Linked DNA regions of Homo sapiens: region 2 is linked to region 1. A link means that fine-mapping ties the variant in region 1 to the expression of a gene that starts in the linked region. Tissue or cell type: monocytes. Region 1 holds a variant in brackets; the other region holds the start of a gene. All regions are shown on one strand. Distances are from middle to middle. Region 1 overlaps HPCAL1 (hippocalcin like 1). Region 2 holds the start of ODC1-DT (ODC1 divergent transcript).

Region 1 (12,040 bases):
ACAAATCATACTGGCTTCTGTGAGCTCCTTGTAGGGCAGGGTCCACTAGGATCCCCATATCTACCTCCTCCATATCTGAGCAGAGGTGGTTATAATGGTTAATTTTATGTGTCAACATGACTGGGCCAGGGGGTACCCAGACATTTGGGCAAACCGATTATTTTGGGTGTGCCTGTGAGGGTGCTTTTGGATGAATTTGACATTGGAACTGGTGACCAATGGGGGAACCAGGTGGGGTAAAGCAGATCCCCCTCCCCAATGTGGGGGTCCTCATCCACTCAGCTGAAGGCCTGAATAGGACAAAAGCCTGAGAATTTGTTCTTTGCCTCACAGTCTTGAGCTGGGACATTGGCCTCCTCCTCCCTTAAGATTCAGACTGGAACTACACCATTAGCTCTCCTGGGTCCCCAGCTTGCTGACCTCTGTCTACAGGGGACAGGGCTGCTTGTCTCCTTGGGACCTCTCAGCCTCCATAATCACGTATAAGCCAATTCCTTATGATAAATACATCTATCTAACCATCCATTCGCCTACCCATTCATCCATCCATCCATCCATCCATCCATCCATCCATCCACCCACCCGCCCACCCATCCATGCATCCACCCTCCCATCCAACCAATCACCCACCCATCCATACATACATACATCCACCCACCTGCCCACCCATCCACCCATCCATCCAGCCACCCACCCACCAACCCATCCATGCATCTACCCACCCACCCAACCATTCACCCATCCATCCATCCATCCATCCACCCACCCACCCACCCACCCATGCATGCATCCACCCACCCACCCAACCATTCACCCACCCATCCACCCATCCATCCATCCACCCACCCACCCAACCATCCATCCACCCATCCATCCATCCATCCAGCCACCCATTCATCCATCAACCGATCCACCTAGGGACCCATCCACCCACCCACCCATCCACCCATACTCCCATCCATCCATCTACCCACCGACCCATCCATCGACCCACCCATCCACCTATCGATCCACCCACCGACCCACCCATTCACCAACCCATCCACCCAGCCATCCATCCACCCATCCATGCATCCACCTGTCTATGCATCCACCCACCCATCCATTCACCCACCCATCCCCTCACCCACTCATCCATACATCCATCCATCCATCCATCCACCCACCCACCCACCCATCCATCCACCCACCCCTCCCATCCATGCATGTCTCCTATCAGTTCTGTTCCTGGAGAACCCTGACTAATGTAGTGGTCACTCCCATCTGTTTCTGTTGGACTCTGTCCCCATCATAAGTGAGCCCTCCCCACAACAAGCACTCTTGATTTAACCTTTGCCAGTCCCAGTTAAATGTTTATAAAATTCAAGCCGTTCACTGGCTGTTCTTCCAGGTGAGGCAGTGTTGCCAAAGGCACCGTCTTGCCTCTTTGTAGCAAGCTAGATCTGCCCAGGGCACCTGGCCTCCATCTCGCACCCCACCTGGTTCCCCCATCAAGGCTTGGTGGCTCTGGGTGCATGGAGAGTTTTACTATGAAATAGCTCTAGCAGTGCCATTGACTCAGAAGGCACTTGGCAAACAGACTCACCATTTCTATTAAAAGAGACATGGAGTCTTAAAAAATATTAAAATGACTAAAATCAACAAATTAGCTGCTGTTGCTGAAGGCCTGCTGGGAGGCAGGTTCCAAGCCATGCGCTTTGCATATGTGACCTTGAGCCACCCAGCTCCCCCCATCCCCTACAGTGAAGACACTGAGGCACAGAGGAGCCGACAGCAGCAGGCAGGTGGGCAGACGCCGTAGTGCCCGTCCTGGTAATAGAACCTCCATTCCACTCACCCCTTCCCAACCCTATGCCCTCTGGGGGAGGCAGATGCCACCTTGGCCAAGGGCCATCTTGACCAGCGTAAGCCAGCCGTGGCCATGACATGGTCATCTTGTGAACACAGGCCATGGTTTCAGCCATGAGATGTGGGGCTGGTGGGGACGGGGTGGTGGGCAGATTCTGGAGGGTTTTCCTGTCCCTCAGTGGGAGGACAGAGGCTTCTCTCCCTGCCTCTTGATGCTCCCATGTCAGCTGTACTGCCCAGAACCACAACAGCAGTTGTAGGCACCCCAGGAAGACAAGCCTGAGGTGAAAAGCTGACTGTGATTAGGAGGCGCAGTGCTGTTCACCCGAGGTCCCAGCTACTCAGGAGGCTGATGCGAAAGGATTGCTGGAGCCCAGGAGGTTGAGGCCAGCCTGGGCAACATAGAGAGACACTCTCTCTTAAAAAAAGAAAAAAAAAAAGACAAGCTGATGCCTGGGGATCCCCAGCGATGCTGCCTTTGGATCCCTTGGCAGGCGAGACCAACCAACCCCCACTTCTTCAGCTGGGCCTTCTGCTGCTGGGACCAGAAGCACTGACGGCAGCGGCGAAGGCTGGATGGAGAACCAGGCCTGCCACCTCTGGGTCCAGCCTGACTGCACCCTTGGCTATGCCCGTCCTCTCTTGGAATGTGGCTTTCCTACGACCTGAAACCGTGGAAGGAGAAGGAGAGGGAAGGGCTGGGGGGAGGCAGAAGCCTGACCGTCAGATCTGCCAAGAACAGTCATCGTTTATTTCCACGAGTATTTCTTGGCATTAGGCAGATATTGAAGAACAGGCTGTGCAAGATTTATAAACGCGGGGACAGCTGGAGGGACGTAAGAGGGGCCGGATTTACCAACAGCGGTGGCACGCAGCACACCCGCCTTGCCTGGAGAGTGCAGGGGCCACGGCCTGAGGAATGGGGGCTCCCGCGGGCAGACGCAAAACTCAGAAAATGCCATTTATTTTATCATTTTAATACCGGAAATGCCAGACCAATCAACAGGGAGGACAGACCAGACACAAATGCCTGTGCTCACAACACGGATGGGAGGATCATCACGGCTCAGGGCACACATGCATTTCCTTAGAAACAGGCAGACAAAGAGAGCATAAATACCACACAACAGCCAGGCTCAGGGGGCTGCGGGCCACAGAGGGCTGCGCTTCAAAGGCAGTCAGAGGCATTAAATACGGGACCTACACAATACACTCCACTTCACCATACATAATTTATATATTAAAAGAAAGGGGACCACAGTATCTATACGTGCAAGCGGCTGTGGTGGAGAAAATGAACGGGGGGGCAGCCATGCACGGGAGGGGCTCCCTGTATACCCTCCCGACGCCTCGTCCCCACCCTTCCCACAGAGTCACTTGGGATCACAAAACGCATGGGCCGGCCGGGGCGCAGCCTCGGGAGGTCCTGCCTGGTCTCCTCGGCATGGACCTCTGAGCTCCCCGTGAGCCGGGAGGTGCCTGGAACCAAGAACACTTGAACCCTGCATGTCACCACATCCCTGGGAGTTGCCCTGGAAGGGACCGGGCCAGGCGTGAGGGGAGGAATGTCGCGTTGGTCAGGTGGAGGAGGGAGGCGCAGCCACCGGGCTGGGCAGGTGCAACGCATGCCCCAGGCCCGGGGCCCGGGAGAGCAGGAACGATTGCGGGGCATCCACTCTTGCAAGCAAAGCTTAAACGGCACGACAAGCCTGTGTTTCTCTGCAACTGTCCAGGGGCCGCTCGCTCAGAACTGACTGGCACTGCTGGGGTCGCACTGCAGCAGGCGGACGATGGAGGGGTCGCTCTTGGCACCTCTGATGAATTCTTCCAAGGACAGTTTGCCTGCAGGGGACCAGAGACAATGGGATTAGCCAGTGCTCACTGTTCTTTATGCTTCCAGAGAGGATGGGGACAGCTCTCAGGTCAGGTATGCTCCCTTTGTTGAAAGTCCTGAGCCTTCTTGAAGCTGGACGGTGTCTAGTCTCCATTCACTTTACAGGCATTTCTGAAAAAAAATCCTTTTTCCTTTCCCTGCTCCCTGCAATACATCAGGTACCTCAAAGGGCTTACCCAGCAAGCTCAGCAGGACGTGGCTGATGAGGGCCATTTAAATCCTTTTAGAAATCACCCCACACTTCGCTTATTAAGGAACGTGTACACTGTGCAGAAAAATGAAGCATTTGCCTCTAACCCATACAGAATCCAGGCTGAGAAGGCCATGCTGGTTGGGGGCCCCCGGAAGCACGGTCCGGATCCTCCCTGGCATCAGCGTAGACCCGCTGCTCAGGCTTGGGGTACCAAACTCATGCTCTGTACTGTTTTGGCCCCATGCGGTGAGAGGAAAACCTAGAAAAAGATTGGTCGTGCTAAGGAATCAGCTGCCCCCTCATCCTCCGCATCCAATGCTGGTGACAACATATTCCCTCTCCCAGGACACAGACTCGGTGACTCCACACTGGGCTGAGTGGCCTCTGGAGGCTCGTGGCCTAGGGCAGGGCTCCGTAAGGCTGATCGGCTGAGCTGGGTGGGGTGAGGTTTTCTGACCCTCCGCTCCCCATCCCATAACCGCTGTCAATGAGCTCACACTGTGGTCACTATAGCCCTGGCTCTGCTAGTCCACAAGCAGGATAGGCTGTAAGGATTCTGCCCGTTCAGACATGGCCTCAAGGGCAGGAGGCGGTCCCTCTGGCTCCAGCTGGTGGGGAAGGATGAGGTTTGAGGTTGGCTGCGTCCTGGCGGCCTGGTCCTGGGGCAGCCCCTCCATGTGTCTGTTTGAGGCTCTGTGCTGTCAGCTGGAATCACTAGGGCACCCTGCAAAATGTCTGTGCAGGCAACACAGACGCATGCAGCCAGGCCCAGCACAGGGGAAGGCATGCAGGAGGGGCTCTCGGCTCTGGCGCATGGCAAGCCACCAACGTTTCCAGGTCTCAGGATCTTCGTCTCGAAGGTGGGATAATGGGAACACCCATCTCAAAGGCACCTGGGAGGATGCATTTGAGGACTCAGACCAGCACCAGGACGGAGGATGCCCCTGCACAGTAGGGCCCTGCTGGGAATTCAGCCCCTCCAGCCCACTGGCAGGCAGGGACACCTGTCCTCATGGGACTCTGGCCCAGGCTTGGGCAGGCTGGCTTCTTCCAGGGCACGAACTTGATGCCTCTGGGGCCTGGGCAGCCTGCTGGCCCCAAGAGAGCCCAAACAATGCCCGGGCTAAGGGGTGGGTAGGGAGAGGGAGGGACAGCCAGGCCCTCAGCAGACAGTCCCCAGGAACCTCTGCCAATGGAGAGAGTGGCTCCCCACCCTCCACCTCTGACCACTCAGGGCAGCCAGCTGTGTGGTCATCTCCTTGGCTAGGTGTGGGGCCTCAGAGTCCACGGCCC[C/T]AGCCTCCCCACTTCCAGTTCCTGACCCCAGGCCCTCCTGTCTCAGGCCGAGAGAGAGCAGGCCAGCCCAGATGGACCTCCAGTCAGGAGAACCAGAGCTGCCCCAGGACGACTCTGAGGGCTGCTGAGATGCTGGGAGCTTCCGAAGGTTCCACTGGCTCCTCCTGATGGAGGGCAGGGCAGGCGAGGGGGTTGCTGAGCACAGCCTGTCCCACATGTGCGGCCTGACAAGCTGAGGAGAGGGTGGCTTTAATGATACTTGTGTCCTGGAGAAACCCATCAGCCCAGCCTAGAGGCCTGGAGCAGCCAGGCACCTTCCAGGGTGGCCAGGGAAGTTGGGGCAAACTCCAGGGCACCATCACTCCTGAGCAGTCCCCGGAGGAGCTTTGAGGGCCGAGGACCACTCCCTGAACTGACTCTGGCCCCTGGCTGCAGCCCCACCTTCCTGGTATCACTCTTCCCTCCTTGCCCCAAGCTCCAGGGACAGGCGGGTCCCCTGGGCTCACAGGAGGAAGTGCTCCATCCCAGCAGGCACATTAGCAACGACCATGCCATCCAAATTCCCAACCAACCTAGAAGATGCCCTCTGAAGAGGTGGGCAGGGCCAAGCCAGGAGGCAGATTCGGGCAGCGAGTGACCATGGGTGGCTTCCCCAGGGACACTGTGAAGTTGGGAACAACAGCCATTATTTGTGGAGTGCAAGCCCTGCTAAAAGCTTTAAGGCATCATCTCGCTGAAACCTCACAACCCCATGGGACCGGATTCACCATCCCCACGAGGAGCGGACAGCCTCAGGAGAGCGGCAGCAGGTGCCCTGCTAGGCTGGAGGGTGGAACACACATTTCCCATCAGCCCAAAGGCAACGCCAGGCACCAGGCAGCCTTGTTTTCTGTGTGTGTGTGTTTTGAAACTGTGACCTGGCTGCCTGGAATGCTCTTTGCTGCTTACAGCTCCCCCACATCCCGTCTCCCGCTGGGGCCATGCTTAACTCACCCGAGGGCTGCACTCCAGACTTCGCAGAGCAGCTTCTTGGGCATTAGCTTATCGTTTAATCCCCAGCACAACCCAGGGAGTATTTCCTCTTTATTTTTTTGAGATGGAGTCTCACTCTATCGCCCAGGCTGGAGTGCAGTGGTGCGATCTCGGCTCACTGCAAGCTCTGCCTCCCGGGTTCACACCATTCTCCTGCCTCAGCCTCCCGAGTAGCTGGGACTACAGGCGCCCGCCACCACGCCTGGCTAATTTTTTTGTATTTTTAGCAGAGACGGGGTTTCACCGTGTTAGCCAGGATGGTCTCGATCTCCTGACCTCGTGATCTGCCCACCTCGGCCTCCCAAAGTGCTGGGATTACAGGCGTGAGCCACTGCGCCCAGCCTGTATTTTCTCTTCTTAAGGTCGTGTTTCTTTATTGCTCAAAAGCAAAGCAAACCTGGTGCTGTGGCTGCTCTTGACAAAGCCGGCAAGAAGAGCAGAATGGGAGGGCCGCACAGCCGCCCTCACCTCACAGCCAATGCAGAGGAGGGCACTCGAGGCACAGCCCTGTCACCACTGCTGCCACCCACCATCGTGAGACTTGCACTTCTGCAGTGGGGCTGAGTCTCCACAGAGCTGCTGTAGGTGGACAAGGTGGCAGCGTACATCCTGACAGTTCCCCTTGGACACTGGGGCCATCTGGGCAGCTTCTTCTCTCAGGATGGCAGCAAGAGAGGCATGGCCAGCACCCCAGGACCCCAACATCTGGGATCCTTTGATCTCAACCCCTCCAGGTTCAGGGCCACCAGCATGCTTGCCTCCCTGCCCCTAAACATTGTACCCACGGGAATATGGGTATGCCCGATTCTATAAGTGGGGAGACAGTGGCTCAGAGAGGCCACAACATGCCCAGCATCACAAAGCTGCACAGAGGAGCCAGGATACAGCACGGGTGTCCCTGACTGCATCCCGCTCTTCCCTGGGCATGGCAGGCGCCAGGCAGGTGGCGGGCGGGGGTGGCCCTCAGGAGACCAAGAAGCTGCAGAGGGGAGGGGGTGCCCCAAACCACATGGTTTTGCCCCTACCGTGGCGTACACATGCAGCCCCGCCCCCACCCCGCACTACCGTCATTGTTGGTGTCCATCTGCCTGAAGATCTTGTCTGTGCGCTTCTCCGGGGTGGACTCATCCTCCGGCATCTTCATCACAGACGACACCATCTTGTAGATGGCCTGCGGATGGGGGCAATGACACTGTGCTCAGAGGCCCGGGGGCTTGGGCGGGTGCAGCAAGGGTGGGCTTCCGCCCAGCCCACAACAAGGCTCGGAGAGGTCAGGGGCTCCCGGTGGCCTTCGGGACCCTTCCCCAGTGGGGAGAATGTTCCCTAGTGAACCTCACGGGTGTCTATGTGAAGTTCAAGAGCAGAGCTGGCAGAAGGGTTCTACTGGGAGGGTGGTGAGGGTGCTGGTATCTCTGCCTGGGGGTGGGTAGTGCCAGGAAGGTGCCTAAGTGTCCCTGTCGGGGGCTGGGAATGCTGAGGGAGAGTGGTGGTCACAGATGTGTGAAATTCCCCACACTGCCTGCTGAGCTGTGTGCATTTTACTCCATGGCTGTTACCCCTCAGTTTAAAAGAGACTGAGTCCCTGAAACTCACAGGGCAAGCCCCATCACCAGCCCCGACAGGACAGGAAGCAGCAGCACTGGGGTCTCCATGGCCTGTTTAGGGCACTGTCAGCCGAGGGCTCAGTCTAGCCACTGGTCTCTCTGCGTGTCTCTGCCTGAGTGGCCCAGCCTGGGGCATGTGACTCTGTGCTGCTGGTGGGTGTACAGAGGAGACGGTGATGGGACTGGTGAGTGGCCACTGAGCAGAGTGACATGCGTGGGGAGTGGTGGCACTGCTGTGGGATTTTCTGAGCACTCCACGTGAAGGTGGCTTGATATTCTCATTCCTGACAACAGACCATTTTCTCATTGTGAGAAAGAGGTAGCAACCAAGTGTCCCATGAGAAACACCACCCAGCCGGCCAGGGAGCCATCGATGGCGTCGGGGGAAGGCTTTCAGGGTTTGGGGACTTGGTTTGGGGGCTGTCCCGTTTGGACAGAAGTGGCTGCTCCTCACTGCTTGGAACAGTTCTACCAGTGCCTTGATGTTCTGACCAAGCCTCTGCACGGCCAGTGACAGGCACACCTATTTGCAAAGGGTAAGGGTTAACACACAGGACAGGACGGGTGATTCCTGGGGAATAGAATTCTTACTTCCGCCACTGCATGAAGCTAAGAGCCAGAAAGTGACGACAGTACCAGAGTTCCCCGAGCCCATGTTAATTTACTCTGACAGTGTGAAAACCATCTACGTGGGAAATGGGTCGCTCATTCCTGAGGCGGGCCACTGCTGCTGCAGAAGTTCACGGATTTGATACCCGCTACTGGAGGCCCACCCCTGAAGTTCCCTACCATGGGACCACCCCTTCTGAAGAGTTCCATTTTTTTCTTATTTTGCTTTTGGTCTTTTTGGAGGCAGGGTCTCACTCTGTCACCCAGGCTGGAATGCAGCAGTGCAATCACAGCTCACTGTCACCTTGAACTCCTGGGCTCAAGCAATCCTCCCATCTCAGCCTCCCAAGTAGCTGGGACTACAGGTGCATGCCACTATGCCCTGCTACTCTTTTAATTTTTTATAGAGATGGAGTCTCACTATATTGCCCAGGCTGGTCTCAAACTCCCGGGCTCACGCGATCCTCCAGCCTCGGCCACCCAAAGTGTTGGGATTACAGGCCTGGCCATGAGTTCTAGAATTGGATGCTCCTGGGCTCAGGGAGGCACTCAGGGGAATGCCAGGGAGGGGCAGCTCTGCTCTCTACTCTCTCTCGCATACCTAGGCACCTGGCCAAGTGAACAAAACTTGGTTTCCTTCTGAAACATGGCCTTTCTGCTAGAGCTGTTGATAGGCATGAAGGTGAAGAGATGCCTCCTAAAGTGACGTCTTTCCCGTGCTGAGCTGATTCTCGTGATCGTTAATGCTTCAGTTTTACTTGATGACTGCGCATTCCTGGGGACATCACAAGCTATCTGTTGAGTTCTCAAATCCAGGGCTTTCCCCAGGTCTTGGCAGGTACCTCTTGCAAGTGCCAAGGAGCCCAGCAATCATACAATTCTTGGCCAGGCACGGTGGCCCATGCCTGTAATCCTAGCACTTTGGGAGGCTGAAGGCAGATCAACTGAGGTGAGGAGTTTAAGACTAGCCTGGCCAACATGGTGAAACCTCGTCTCTACTAAAAATACAAAAATTAGCTGGCTGCGGTGGCACATACCTGTAATCCCAGCTACATGGGAGGCTGAGACAGGAGAATCTCTTGAACCCAGGAGGTGGAGGTTGCAGTGAGCCGAGATCATGCCACTGCACTCCAGCCTGGGCGACAAAGTGAGACTCCATCTCCAAATATATATAAAATATAATTTTTAGAAATTCATCTATTTGAGTCTCAGACTTTGTAAAATGCAGAGAATGACCCACGTTGTTGGGTTATGAAGATGAAAACGGATCAAAGTGCTCCACCCGGCCCTGATGTATAGCAAGTGATCAATAAACATTGGCTTTTACCATTGCCCTTTGCAAGGGTCTGCCCAATCAGGTGACAACTGCTCACTTTCCAAAGTGCACCAGGTAGCAACCTGGCCAAGAAAGACCCAATGTCGAGTGAACATAAAGAACACAGGGAGGCCAGGCACGGTGGCTCACACCTGTCATTCTAGCACTCTGGGAGGCTGAGGCGGGCAGATCGCTTGAGCCTAGGAGTTCAAGACCAGCCTGGATAATGTGGCAAAACCCTCTCTCTACCATCAAAAATACCAAAAAAATTAACAGGGCATGGAGGTGCTCAAGAGGCTGAAGCGGAAAAATCACCTGAGCCCAGGAGGCAGAGGTTGCAGTGAGCTGAGATAGTGCCACTGCACTCCAGTCACTAGAGCAAGATTCCTGTCTTAAAAAAAAAAAAAAAAAAAAAAGCCCTGGGCTGGGGGCTGGGAGCTGGGAGGGGACCTGGGCCCGCGGTGAGACCCGGGGCCTCGGGCGCCGGTACCTGCACGATCTCCAGCATCTCGCTGCGGCTGATGTAGCCGTTGCCGTCCAGGTCGTACATGCTGAAGGCCCACTTGAGCTTCTGCTCCAGCTTGCCCCGCGAGGTCACGCTCAGCGCAATGATGAACTCCCGGAAGTCGATGGTGCCGTCGCCGTTGGTGTCGAAGGTGCGGAAGACGTGCTCGGCGAACTTGGAAGCGTCGCCGTAGGGGAAGAAGTTGGCGTAGATCTTCTTGAACTCGTCCACGGTCAGGTGGCCGGTGGGGCAGTCCTTGAGGAAGCCCTTGTACCACTCCTGCAGCTCGTGGTCGGTGAACTCCGTGTTCTCCCGCAGGTCCTGCAGCACCTCGGGCCGCAGCTTGCTGTTCTGTTTGCCCATGGCGGCTGGCGGCGGCGACTACACCTGCAAGACAGGGGGTCAGCCGGGGACGCCACCCACGGCCACGGAGCAGGGCTGAGCCATGTGCCGGAGAGACCAAATAAGCCCATCGCTGTGCAAGCGCTGCGACTCAGCAACTCCCGGGTCCCCCATCGGAAGGCATGCCGCTATCTTATGGACCACCAAGAAGGCCAAGAGACTCTAATTATATCACGACAGCTCACCCTCACACTGCGGGACACGTTCTCACTTGGAGAATGTGGAAATGCGGGGGGGAAAATGCAACTTAAAATCAGTGGAACAGGGCATCATCCGGTGCCCACCAGGGGTTGTACGAGAGGCGAAGATTAAAATCAGTTCTTACTTTCATCCCCCTCATCAGCTCCTGGCAAAGTGGCCACCTCAGCCACATCCCAGACTCTTTGGGGCAGTTCTTCCCTCTTTCAGGCATCACATTATGTTTTTATCTTTAGAAGAGGCGTCTAGAAACTTTCAGGGAGTCACCCCCACCCACCTTCTTTATTTGTTTATTTGTTTGTTTCTTTTGAGATGGAGTTTTGCTCTTGTCGCCCAGGCTGCAGTGCAGTAGCAGGATCACAGCTCACTGTAACCTCCGCCTCCCAGGTTCAAGCAATTCTCCTGCCTCAGCCTCCTGAGTAGCTGGGATTACAGGCATGCACCACCGCGCCCAGCTAATTTTTTGTATTTTTAGTAGAGACAGGGTTTCACCATGTTGGCCAGGCTGGTCTCGAACTCCAGACCTCAGGTGATCCACCTGCCTCGGCCTCCCAAGGTGCTGGGATTACAGGTGTGAGCCACTGTCCCCGGCCCACCCTCTTTATTTTGCCTTTGATAAACTGCCCCGGGTGGGAGGAGGATCTGGAATTAGCTCTAGGCAGTAAATGATGTTCTGAATGGAACCAGGGAAAAATGAGGCACCTGTGGGAACGAGGAACTGCTCTGCTCAAAACCATCCCCCAGGGCGGTTCTCCACAAGTCCTGAATGCAAGACTGATCAACCGGCATTCACACGGCTGCCACTGCACCACCTCATGTTATTTTCTTACATTAACAGTTAACTGATATACAGGGCGTGATAATTTTTGAAGTACATGGAAGAATGAGAAATAAAAAGATGTCTCCTACCCTAGCCACAGTGGCAACCACTTTGAACTCTGTGTTTGTGAATTCTAAACAGTAGGCACCAGCTCTCCATTATGAAAGGTAAGACAGACCACCCACACTGCCCACCACTTCCTTTCTTCTCTGCCTCTATCCCAGGGTTGTTTTTTTTTTTTTTTTTTTTTTTTTGAGATGGAGTCTCACTGTGTTGCCCTTCCAGGCACTTATGAGGAGTGTGCAGTGGTGTGATCTCGGCTCACTG
Region 2 (12,040 bases), 26 kb before region 1:
CTCTGAAGTTCCTCGGTGTGTAGAGGCATCACCCTTATCTCTGCCGCATTCACAAGGTGTTTTCCCTGTGCGTCTCCATCGTCCCCCATCTTTTTATGGCTCACTGCAGCCTCAAATTCCTGGACTCAAGCGATCCTCCCACCTCAGCCTCCTGAGTAGCTGGGACTACAGGCATGCACCACCACACTCGGCTAATTTTTTTGTTTTTAATTTTTTTTATAGATACCGGTCTCCCTATGTTACCCAAGCTGGTCTTGAACTCCTGCCCTCAAGCAATCCTCCTGCCTTGGCCTCTCGAGGCACTGGGATTATATGTGTGAGCCACTACACCCAGCCCCAAATTTCCCCTTTATATCAGGACACCAGCCCACCCTAACACCCTCATTTAACTTAATGACCTCCATAAAGACCCTATCTCCTAATAAATTCACGTTCTGCAATACTAGGGTTAGGACTCAACATACGGTCTCGGGGGCAGGGGACATAATGTAACCCATAACAGAGGGCATCTTCATGCTCTTCGTGGGAGGCCTGAACCCATTTCCACGCAAAAGAGTGGATCCTAGTGGGTTTAGTCAACCATGGAGGGATGGGGGAAGGCGAAGGGATCCGTGCATTCCTCCTGGGGAGCCGAGGGGAAGGATGCTGGTCAAACTGGTTTCTTAGATAAAAAGAGACATAGAGGAAGAGATGCTTCTCCCTCTGTCCACAAGCCTTCCTGGGGCAGCCTTCTTGGAACCATGAAGAGAGCTGGGCCAACACCTGGGCAAGGAACTGCAAAAACAGGAAAAGAATCCAGGTCTTCAACGTTGTTCTTGAGGCTCCGAATACATGAAACTGGAGACTCCCTTCCCCAAGCCACGTTGCTACGTGAGATGACTGCTTTTCCTTATTGCTTAAGCCAATGTGAAATGTCACCAGTGCTTACCAGAACTCTGGTTAGAAACTGTCCTACAAGAAGGCAGAAGGAAGACTCTGACGGGCCTACCGCCAAGGGGCCGAGCCTGCCCTTGCCCGCCCGCTCTCAGACCCATTCCCCACTCCCACTGTGCCTCTGCTGTTTCTCTGGTGGAGTGGACAGGGCTGGCCTTGGAAAATGACACTGACCGGGATCTCTTGTCAACAGGCTTCTGACTGGGAAGTGCTGGTGGGAGCCTGGAGGATGGGCGGAGGGGAGAGCTGGCTCCTGTCCCTCCTCTCTGTCTCCATCTCCCTCTCCCTCTCTTGGCTTCGCAGCCTCCCCAGCACTAGCTGCTTGCCCTTGGTGGTCAGTGGGTTTCTCTGGGACAGCCCACAGGTGGCTGCCACGCTGCTGGGGACCCTCGTCCCCTTTCATCCCCAGTCCTCTGGGTGATAGTGGCTTCCTGCAGCTGTAAGACATGTCATCTCTGTAACTAGTTCTCTTGCTAAATTCCCTCTGCTGAACTGCCTGCCTGGGCCCTGAGCCATACAGGGCATGGAATGCCAAAGGGAAACATTCTGTGCCCGCATGTGGAGGCCGACCTGCCTTCTACGATGGCGGGGCCCTGCTGTCAGCCAGGATTTGGATGGACTGATGGAGGCTGGAGCTGGGTGAAGTAGCAGCCCCTGGGGGTGAGAGGCTGCTCCCCAGAGTGACTCCTCCTCTGCTCTCCCCTTCACAGCCCTCAGTCCTCTCCCAGAGGAAAGCTGGGCTTGTGGGCGGGAGCCTCCCTTGGTGCCCACAGGTCTTATTCTTGCCCTGGGTGCTGCAGGCCCCTCCCTAACTCTCCCTGGCCCTGGACGAGCCTTTCCAAACCCAGGCCCCTGCTCCCTCGGCTGCGTCCACCTCCTTTGTCTGTGTGACCACTGTCCCAGGGACCAGAACCTAGAGAGCACAAGCCTGGGGGCAGCCTCCCCTCTGGACCATGAGCTCCTGGAGCACAGGGACCTCCTTGGCCTCCCCTCCTTCTCCCTGGCACCTGGCAGGGGCGCTGGCACAGAGCAAGTGCTCACAGCTGTTAGAACAGAGACAGGGAGCACTGCCCTCAGGGTACCCTACCCCTTGGAGGGCCCGCAAGGCTCGGTGTAGCAGACCCCAGCCACAGGCCCTTCGGATGGTCCCGCCTCTGACTTGGCAGGGACGCAGAGCTCACACTGCCCCTGGGCAGAGCACTCACCTTCCTGAAGACCCAGGTTGTGCAAGGGCCCTCCGCATGCTGCTCCCTGTCACGAGAGGAAAAAATCTTGCAGGCGCTGGGGCTTCCCAGAGGTGGGGCCCCACCAGGGTGAGGCTCTGGCAAAAATGGGGCAGTGGCAAAGCCCAGCAGAGGTGCTGCAACTTGTTGGGTCAGAGGGAGTCACCAGGCGCTTAGGAGAAAATAAAACAAAAGAGGCAGTTTCCTTAGGCACTGGGTAAAAGCGAGGCTTCTCTTGGCTCTTATCAATTCCCTGCTGGTCCCCAGGAACCCGGCCCAGCCACAGAGGGTCCTCCCTTGTCCTGCCTGCCACTTGCACACAGGTGGCACTCAGCAGACACGTATGGAATGAATCAACAAACAACTGACTAAAGGAAGAACACCCAGGGTCTTTTGTTCCCCTAATCTTAGATAGCACGTGGGGAGAAATTCTCCTGAGCTAATCACTCGTATAGCAACCACAAATGACCACTTTTCAGCACAGCCTCGCTTGCTTTCTTTTGTTCCCAATAGCCCACAGGTGCTACTAAACCCAGTTTCAACTTGACAATATTGAATGGCTTTGTGAGCCAGGAACCAGGCTAGAAACTGAACATATGGAGAGAAGAAAATCATGGTCCTGATTTCAAAGGGAGAGTTGCGGGGAGGGGAAGGCAGGATGGAGGCAGGAAACAAAGGTGCCCACACCACGTGACCCACGTTACGATGGCAGGGGCAGGGTCTGTGGAACATCAGTGGCTCAGGGAGCTGGAGTGGCAAAAGAGGCTGGGAGGGTGGGCAGGGCAGGCCTCAGAGGGTCCTGGGTGCCAGGCTAAGGTGTTTGGACTTTACTCTGTGGACCCAGGGCCACCAGTGAAGGGCTTGAAACAGACAAGCCAAGTAGGCAGATGGCAAAGCTTCTGTCCACGTGTCGGATGGCATGTCTGAATACTGACTCGGTACAGGCTTAATGGGACTCTGACTTCTGCCCACTGAAAAAGACAAGGAAGTGGGAAGCAAAATAATGATAAACATCACTTTCCCCATGAAAATGAACTCCTCCAGGCCGGGTGCGGCGGCTCACACCTGTAATCCCAACACTTTGGGAGGCTGAGACGGGCGGATCATTTGAGGTCGGGAATTTGAGACCAGCCTGGCCAACATGGCGAAAACCTGTCTCTACTAAAAATACAAAAAATTAGCCAGGAGTGGTGGTGCACGCCTGTAGTCCCAGCTACTCAGGAGGCTGAGGCATAAGAATAACTTGAACCCAGGAGGCAGAGGCTGCAGTGAGCCAAGATTGTGCCACTGCACCACTCCAGCCTGGGTGACAGAGTAAGACTGTGTCTCAAAAAAAAAAAAAAAAAGTACTCTTCCAAACTCTCAGCCTCCAGACAAGGGCCCCCTCTTCTCTGCAACTGTGTGTGCCCACTGACCTGCCCCCAGGGCCCTTCTGGGCTCCAGGAGGCCCTGGCCTAGTTCCTATTTGGCTCCTTTCCCAGCAGCTTCCCAGTGAGCCACACCAGGGCTGGGGCAAGGTAGGGCCGTGATGTAACACTTTATAAAACAAACATCCTGGGACTTCCACTTACACATGGGCGTCCTCTGCTTCCAGCAGATCCTTTTGGAGGAGCTCCACTTTTCTGATGATGCCACCATTGCTCAGAGGAAGGAAGGCCTCCCTGAAAGCTGCTTTCTATGCCTCAGGCACGCCATTTGGATTATGGGCAGAGATGGCACACTTTCCACCTTGGAGGGTGGATTGGATTTTTCGGAAACACCTAAAACCATTCAAAGGGCAAGGTTAAAGGACTGGTGAGTGACTGAGCTAAGGAAAACTATTTTTGGCCAAACATCCAGATGGGACTAGAGCATCTGTGACTAGTCCCCATTACCCAGGTGTCCTGAGTTAGGGCACCCTTGCCAGGGCAGAAGCTAACCTCCCAAAGTCCTCATGGGGCTGGAGGTCATGAGCCTCACTCCACAGTCCACTCTTCTATGCTTCTGGAAGAAGTTTGGTGAAGTAGAGTACAACCACGGACACGTAAGCAGCGCCCAAACCCATTTTCCAGAAAGCTCTCAATGTCAAACTTTCCAATACTGAGTAAATGGATACACAAATGCTTGCTGGTTATTGTCTTCTATGTGACCTACTTCTTTTTGATAAGGGTGAGGCCAGGCGCGGTGGCTCACGCCTATCATCCCAGCACTTTGGGAGGCCAAGGCAGGCAGATCACTTGAGGTCAGGAGTTTGAGACCAGCCTGGCCAACATGGTGAAACCCCATCTCTACTAAAAATAGAGAAATCAGCTGGATGTGGTGGTGGGCGCCTGGATTCCCAGCTACTCAGGAGGCTGAGGCAGGAGAATTGCTTGAAACTGGGAGGCAGAGGTTGCAGTGAGCCAGTATTGCGCCACTGCACTCCAGCCTGGGCAACAGAGCAAGCCTCTTGACTCAAATAATAATAATAATAATGATAAGGGTGACTGCTTAAGTCTGCAATCACTATATACCTTTATAAGCCTTTTCATGTAAGTTAGCAAAGAAGAAAAAAGATACTTCCTTCATCAGACATGTTTTTGGTTTTGGTTTAGAAAACTTGGTCAGTGGATTTATACAGAACTCTGTGAAATAAGTAGATTCTTAGAACATTAGAAGGAAAGAAGAACCTGAGCTTTCAGCCAGTCCAACCACCCCATTTTCAGAAAGGTAGTCTGGAACCCAGAGAGACAGAGTGATGTCCAAACTTTCATAATGAGCGGGGCAGAGCGGCGGGGGGGTGGTAAGGGGGCCCAAGGAATCCTAAGAAAATGGGAGTTGGTCCCAGAACTTAGGTGAGATGACTAAGCTCTTAGAAGCATGTCCAGTGTAGTATCTAATGTTTTTATTCACTCTTTTAGCACCACACATAGAAGTCTCATCTCTGGCCAGGCACAGTGGCTCACGCCTGTCATCCCAGCACTTTGGGAGGCCGAGGTGGGTGGATCACTTGAGGTCAGGAGTTTGAGATCAGCCTAGCCAACATGGCGAAACCCCATCTCTACTAAAAATGCAAAAATTAGCTGGGCACGGTGGTACATGCCCGTAATCCCAGCTACTCAGGAGGCCGAGGCATGAGAATCGCTTGAGCCTGGGAGGCAGAGGTTGCAGTGAGACGAGATCACGTCACTGCACTCCAGCCTGGGCAACAGAGTGAGACTCTCAGAAAAAAAAAATAAAAAAGAAATCTCATCTCCACATGAGGGTGATTCCTAAGTGCGTGGCATCACGTATTTTTTTTACAAAGATCTGTTGCTTGTTTCCGAAGAAAAGAAAATAGTAATGGAGAGGATGAAGTTTACTGAAAATACATTGAAAGACAATAAAGTCATGCATTTTAAGTAAGGCCAGGTTTAGTCACCACCACCTGAGCTTCTGGAATCCAGCTGAGTGGTTGGGTTTCACAACTCCAGCCTTGCTGTCCACAGTTCTGCTGCCCAGGGCCTCTGCGGGTCTTCCTGCAGCCGCAGAGCAGAGCTCCGGGGAAGGAGCAGGCCTCCTTCCCTCCTTCTATTTCCCCTGCTGGGCTCTCCAGGCAAGGGCTCACCTTCCCAGCATGCGGGCAGGAGTTTGGGCTTTGGGGTGGGCTGGCGGGAGAGGAAGGTATGTGGGCGATAGCAGTGTGAGTGGCTTGTATGTGCAACAGTCAGAGCCCTCCTGGCTCCCTGAGCCAAGAACTGGCCTCTACGTTCCAGTTAATGTTTCTATCTGACCACCCCCAGGCTGCTAGGGGAACCCTACCTGCCAAGACATCCAGGCCCTCTGCCTGGAGGCTGCATACTGGGCAGTGCTGGGAACGACTGGTTGATAGGTGTGCCGGGAAGCTGGGCGATTCTGGCAGTGCAGGACACTTCCGGAGTGTGAGGAAAATTGCGTCATTGGAACAAAGTGATTCCTCACAGAGAGGCACAAAGTCCGCATCACCACAGAATCAAAGATGTCTCATTCAGCGCTGGAGCTATAACGTTCTCTGATGGGTTTTGATGGTTAATCTCATCAAGAATTAAGCTTGTTAAGGGTGGAGCTAACCCCCCTCTCCCTCCCTCTAGTCCGGGGAACACGGTGCCCGGTGGGCGCTCAAGGACTATGTAAAGATAAAGTTGATAGGGGCGTACCACCCCCACATCCCTTCACATAGGAAGAAGACTCACTTCTGCTTACGGCTAGCGTTTGCTCTGTTTCTGTGGAAGTCGTGCCTGCTCCAGGAAGAGCTGGATCATCCATTCATTCATTTATGCATGCATTCATTAAACAGGTATTCACTGACTGTGCCTCAGACCTGGTTTTGGGTACCAAGGAAGTTTTTCAAAACCTCACAGGGCTTTGTAGCTATAAAGATATGTAAGGATCCTTGGGTTATCTGAAGCCCAGAGAAGGGAGATAACTTGTCCAAGAGCACACAGCAAGTTGGGGGCAGCGCTGGGCCAGTGCTCTGAGCTCCTCCAACCCCGCCCCCACCCACCCAAGGCTAGATCTAGATCTACCCACTCCTCTCCTTAACTCTTCATCGGCTGTACTCCCACCCTAAGGAGTCGAAATCCCCACCCTAGGGAGAGACATATCCTGTCTGGATTGTCCAAAAGGGAATGAAAGGTAAAAATGAAAAAAAAAAAAAAAAGTGTCCCCAATTCAAGTGCAGTGCCTCCCTGGTGCGGGCATTCCAGCGTGGCCTGGAGTGAGTGGCAGTCCACCTCCAGAGGCGTCCCCTGGGCGCTCCTAGGGACTCGAATTTCCCACGCGGCTTTTTGCTTTATGTATTCACTGTTTAGACGTTTTCGGTCAAAGCATTTTGGGACTTCCGTAACTCTCAGAGCGCGCCAGGGAGCCGCCCTTAAAGATACCTAGTTACTGATGAGTTCCATCCGGTAAAGCAGAGGGTAGTGGGCGGCTTGGAGACTCAGGATCCGGGTCCCCTCACGCTCCTGGCTGAGTCCCTGGCTTCACAGGGGAAACTACCTCCGCAGGCCAGGACCCATCTAGTTACAGGATACCTCGATGTTACAAAGACGAGGCTTCCAGCGCGGGGGCGTGGAGGCGGCTGCCAGCCCTGCCCGCAGCGTGCTGGCGACCCCCGGGACGCCCCTTCCCTCCCGCGCCTCTGCTCCCTAGCTGGTGGGAGCAGAGCGGCACCGGGATCACTTCCAGGTCCCTTGCACCGGAGGAATGGGCGGCAGCAGGGTCCGGAGTCGGCCCGGCGGGGCCCACGTGGCCAGCACATCGGTCCTCCGCTCGCGATTTCCCTTTTCCGCTCTCGGGCACGAGGTACTGAACGCCAGGTGGAAGCACAGCTGTGCAGCTACAGGCTCTGCCGTTCAGCTGCCGCGGGCCGGGGCCGGGGCCTGCGGCGTCGTGCGCGTGCGCGGACCAGTTCCAGGCGGGCGAGACCGCCGCAGGGCGGGGCGGGGCGAGGCGGCCGCAGGGCGGGGAGGGCGGGGAGAGGCGGCCGCAGGGCGGGGAGGGCGGGGCGCGAAGCCGGGGGCGGGGGCCACGCGTGGGGCAGGCGGTGCTCGGCTCGGCTGACGTCGGCCCGCCGGCGCCCCACCAGCTCCGCGCGGGCCCGGGTTGGCCACCGCCGGGCCCCCGCCCCTCCCCCGGCGGTGTCCCGGCCGGAACCGATCGTGGCTGGTTTGAGCTGGTGCGTCTCCATGGCGACCCGCCGGTGCTATAAGTAGGGAGCGGCGTGCCGTGGGGCTTTGTCAGTCCCTCCTGTAGCCGCCGCCGCCGCCGCCCGCCGCCCCTCTGCCAGCAGCTCCGGCGCCACCTCGGGCCGGCGTCTCCGGCGGGCGGGAGCCAGGCGCTGACGGGCGCGGCGGGGGCGGCCGAGCGCTCCTGCGGCTGCGACTCAGGCTCCGGCGTCTGCGCTTCCCCATGGGGCTGGCCTGCGGCGCCTGGGCGCTCTGAGGTGAGGGACTCCCCGGCCGCGGAGGAAGGGAGGGAGCGAGGGCGGGAGCCGGGGCGGGCTGCGGGCCCCGGGCCCCGGGCACGTGTGCGGCGCGCCTCGCCGGCCTGCGGAGACACGTGGTCGCCGAGCGGGCCACGACCTTGAGGCGCCGCTTCCTCCCGGCCCGGGGTTCTCCCGCGGCTGGATAAGGGTGATCCGGGCGCCTCGTTCTGCCCCCGTCTTCACAGCTCGGGGCTGGAGGGGCCTAGGGGAGACCCACCCGGAGACCCTGCGGCCCCGCGCCGGCCTCTTTCCCAACCCTTCGGCGGCCGCGCGCTGGCCGGGGAGCCGTTGGGGAGGCCCTGGCGGCCGCGCAGCAGGTGCAGGGGCGCAGAGCCCGGGCTCGCCTTGGTACAGACGAGCGGGCCCCGGCCTTGGCGCCTTCAGTTTCCTTCCAGTTTTTATTTTCGCTGTGTCTACAGAGCAGATGACACCAATTTGGAAACCCGCGAGAGTGGGTAGAGCTAAGATAGTCTTGCTGTAGTAGCTGTGATATTAGATGCTCGGCCATGACTTAGAGGTGTTTATTTAAGGACTGTGAATGACTCGGTGATTTCGGAAAAGCTTGGCTTAGATGAACGGACATACACAGGGGAGACAGCCCTAAGGTTTGCAGAAAAGGCTGATTGTGCTGTTTGCGAAGTCGAAATAATTGGTGAAAGTGTAGAAGGCAGAACCTCTCAGGAATGTCTGGGGAGGACAAAGAATGTGTTGGCTGACTTTGTTTAAACATAAAATTGGGCAGACTTTAATTGATTTGTGAAATTTTTTTCAAAGTTTGTTTGAATTAGCCCCTATCTCTTCTAACATTATCCTCTTGTGCTAATTGATTGACCATTTTAAATAACTTAGCTGTTACAGAAAGACCGAAAGGTGTTCTTCAGTAAAATATATTCAAGTAAGTTACTTAAGTAACGCCTTAAAAGATACAGAAAAGCAAAAAAGTATTGGCGTATTAAAAAGAAATCAAAACTTTCCAAGTTTAGGCCTGAACATTGCCTTAAAAATATTTAATAAGGCCTCAAATGACCCAGTCCGAGACTGCATGAGCCTATTTATTATTAAATTGTAAATATTCTTCATATAAACAAAAATATATAACCATGTCTGTAACAAAAATGGTTTTGCTAGCGTTGTTACTCTCTTCCCTTCTCCGAGGGGTGATTTAGGCAACTTCGGAGGTTGACAATGCCAAGCAGTCACAATAGATAGAGCTTTAAAGCAAATTCTATGCATGGGTTTGGATTTATGACAGGCCCGTCACCCTGGGCCTGTCATAGTACCCCATGCCAGAGCAAACTGTGTCCCCGAACCATTGCCTGGCCTCTGTGCCCGTAGGCTGCTGGCACTGAAGTGGGTTGCACAGTGGAAAAGAAGAAAGCTCTACCTGGCAGAAATTTTTAAAGGTTAAAATAAATAATTTTAAGAAAGCTGGTTCACAAGGTGCCACATTTGATGAAAGCAAAATACAGTGGCTTTTATTGTTACTAGAGTGATGTTCTTGCTTGTTTTTCTTTTTTGGTGAAGTTAGCCCCAAATTATTCTCATAGCTAAGCAAATACGAGAGTGACTGTAAGGACAGTTGGCATTCCCGGAATTGCTAAACTTGGTAGGCAACGCTGGTTTAAGAATACTGAGTTCTAGCCGGGCGTGGTGGCTCACGCCTGTAATCCCAACACTTTGGGAGGCTGAGGCAGGCGGATCACCTGAGGTCGGGAGTTGGAGACCAGCCTGACTAACATGGAGAAACGCCATCTCCACTAAAAATATAAAATTAGCCAGGCCCCGGGTGTGGTGGCACATGCCGGTAATCCCAGCTACTCGGGAGACTGAGGCAGGAGAATCGCTTGAACCCAGGAGGCGGAGGTTGAGGTGAGCCGAGATCATGCCATTGCACTCCAGCCTGGGCAACAAGAGTAAAACTCTGTCTCAAAAAAAAAAAAAAAAAATACTGAATTCTGATCAGGTAACAGCAACTGTAATACAATGTGATAAGTTGACTTGAAGATTACAGTTTTTAAGAAGTATATACCCAGCTAATACATGAAAATTAACTCGTAAAATCTCAAATGCTCCAGACATTTCCATGATGCCTGTTGGTCAGTAAAAATCATTCTAAGACTTAGTGGAAGTAGGAAATGTTTGTATGGCTGTGTATAAAGGCTATAATGTAATCCCAGCACTTTGGAAGACCGAGGCGGGTGGATCACCTGGGGTCAGGAGTTTGAGACCCACCTGGACAACGTGGTGAAATCCTGTCTCTACTAAAAACACAAAAATTAGCCGGGCATGGTGGCAGGCGCCTGTAATCCCAGCTGCTGGGGAGGCTGAGGCAGGAGAATCGCTTGAACCCGGGAGGCAGAGGTTGCAGTGAGCCAAGATTGCACCGCTGCACTCCAGCCTGGGTGACAGCGTGAGACTCTGTCTCAAAAAAAATAAAAAAGTCTATAATGCTATTTTAAGTTTCTAAGGAACTGAAACTGCTCTGAAATAAATCAGACCATTATAAGACTTTTTTCCATATCAGTGAGCTAAGTGCAGATAAGCTTCTGAAACTTGCATGCTAGATTTTTTTGGTACAAATATTTGAAATGCTTAGTGTGCTGCCTTGGAAAAACCTGGTATTTTTTGTTGTGTCCTTATACTGCCAAGGTTTATGGAATCATGTACCTTATGCCTAGTAATAATTAGGATGACCAGGCCAGTGAGTGGTTCATATCCGGGGCATGATTAGCTCTGCGTGTGCTCAGCCAGTGCCCCATCTTCAACTCGATGTGTTCCTAAGGTAGACAGCAAATTCCCTATTTTATTTCTCAGATTGTCACTGCTGTTCCAAGGGCACACGCAGAGGGATTTGGAATTCCTGGAGAGTTGCCTTTGTGAGAAGCTGGAAATATTTCTTTCAATTCCATCTCTTAGTTTTCCATGTAAGTATTCAGTTTACATTTATGTTGCAGGTTAATCTTAAGAATTGTATTGCTAAGGCTTCTAAGTGAATTTCTCCACTCTATTTGCATTTTGTTGCATTTCAGAGGAACATCAAGAAATCATGAACAACTTTGGTAATGAAGAGTTTGACTGCCACTTCCTCGATGAAGGTTTTACTGCCAAGGACATTCTGGACCAGAAAATTAATGAAGTTTCTTCTTCTGTAAGTATATGAGGCCCATGCTGGCAGTGCAGCTGAGAGTGCCAGGCAAGTGGAAAACTTTGGCAAGGTCTAAGGAAGAGCAATGAGGCTTACATGTCTTGTTATGGAATGTAGAAATTAATTCACTGGTGGTAAATTAATAGTGATAATGGTGATACTCATATCAGTGGCTAGACTCAAAAGAGCAGGATTCATTGTGACTGATGGGAATGAAGGTCGCTGGCTATTGGTGTGGTGTGTGGTGAGGCTGCTAGTGAGTCACCTGTGACCACTCTTGTTTCAGGATGATAAGGATGCCTTCTATGTGGCAGACCTGGGAGACATTCTAAAGAAACATCTGAGGTGGTTAAAAGCTCTCCCTCGTGTCACCCCCTTTTATGCAGTCAAATGTAATGATAGCAAAGCCATCGTGAAGACCCTTGCTGCTACCGGGACAGGATTTGACTGTGCTAGCAAGGTAAGCGATAGCAGCAGGCCTCAAAAGCGTTGTATAAAATGGGCCTGGTATTCCCCACGAGGCAGATACAAGTTGTGTTTTTTGGGCAATAAATGCTCACTAAAGGCAAATGGGGCGGGGGGGTACATGACAACTTCCCATGCTTTTCTGTTTATTCCACGTGTTAAGCCACATATGGATAGCATGACACCACTCTTCTTTTTCAGACTGAAATACAGTTGGTGCAGAGTCTGGGGGTGCCTCCAGAGAGGATTATCTATGCAAATCCTTGTAAACAAGTATCTCAAATTAAGTATGCTGCTAATAATGGAGTCCAG

The links. PIP is the estimated chance that this variant, and not a neighbour inherited with it, causes the effect.
Region 2: ODC1-DT starts here. The variant in region 1 is fine-mapped to the expression of ODC1-DT in monocytes (TOPMed, PIP above 0.99).

Annotation. Positions count from the first base shown.
Region 1 is chr2:10,418,374-10,430,413 of GRCh38, reverse strand. HPCAL1 (hippocalcin like 1) reads right to left here. Exons shown (of 5, transcript NM_002149.4): 3 at 10,279-10,680; 4 at 7,326-7,431; 5 at 2,810-3,690. The coding sequence starts at 10,656. The coding sequence ends at 3,593. LOC124905972 (a long non-coding RNA gene) reads left to right here and starts at 11,949. Exons shown (of 3, transcript XR_007086211.1): 1 at 11,949-12,040. RefSeq lists enhancers at 4,839-5,651, 9,980-10,567, 10,568-11,155. The variant C/T (reference allele first, on the strand shown) is at 5,229.
Region 2 is chr2:10,444,157-10,456,196 of GRCh38, reverse strand. It overlaps ODC1-DT (ODC1 divergent transcript), which reads right to left and starts at 6,469. Exons shown (of 5, transcript NR_110597.1): 1 at 6,326-6,469; 2 at 5,916-6,144; 3 at 3,728-3,916; 4 at 2,139-2,328; 5 at 645-774. ODC1 (ornithine decarboxylase 1) reads left to right here and starts at 7,870. Exons shown (of 12, transcript NM_002539.3): 1 at 7,870-8,076; 2 at 10,933-11,042; 3 at 11,148-11,266; 4 at 11,550-11,723; 5 at 11,930-12,040. The coding sequence starts at 11,165. It overlaps SNORA80B (small nucleolar RNA, H/ACA box 80B), which reads left to right and starts at 9,348; the gene lies at 9,348-9,483. RefSeq lists silencers at 7,000-8,479, 9,704-9,933 and an enhancer at 8,600-8,689.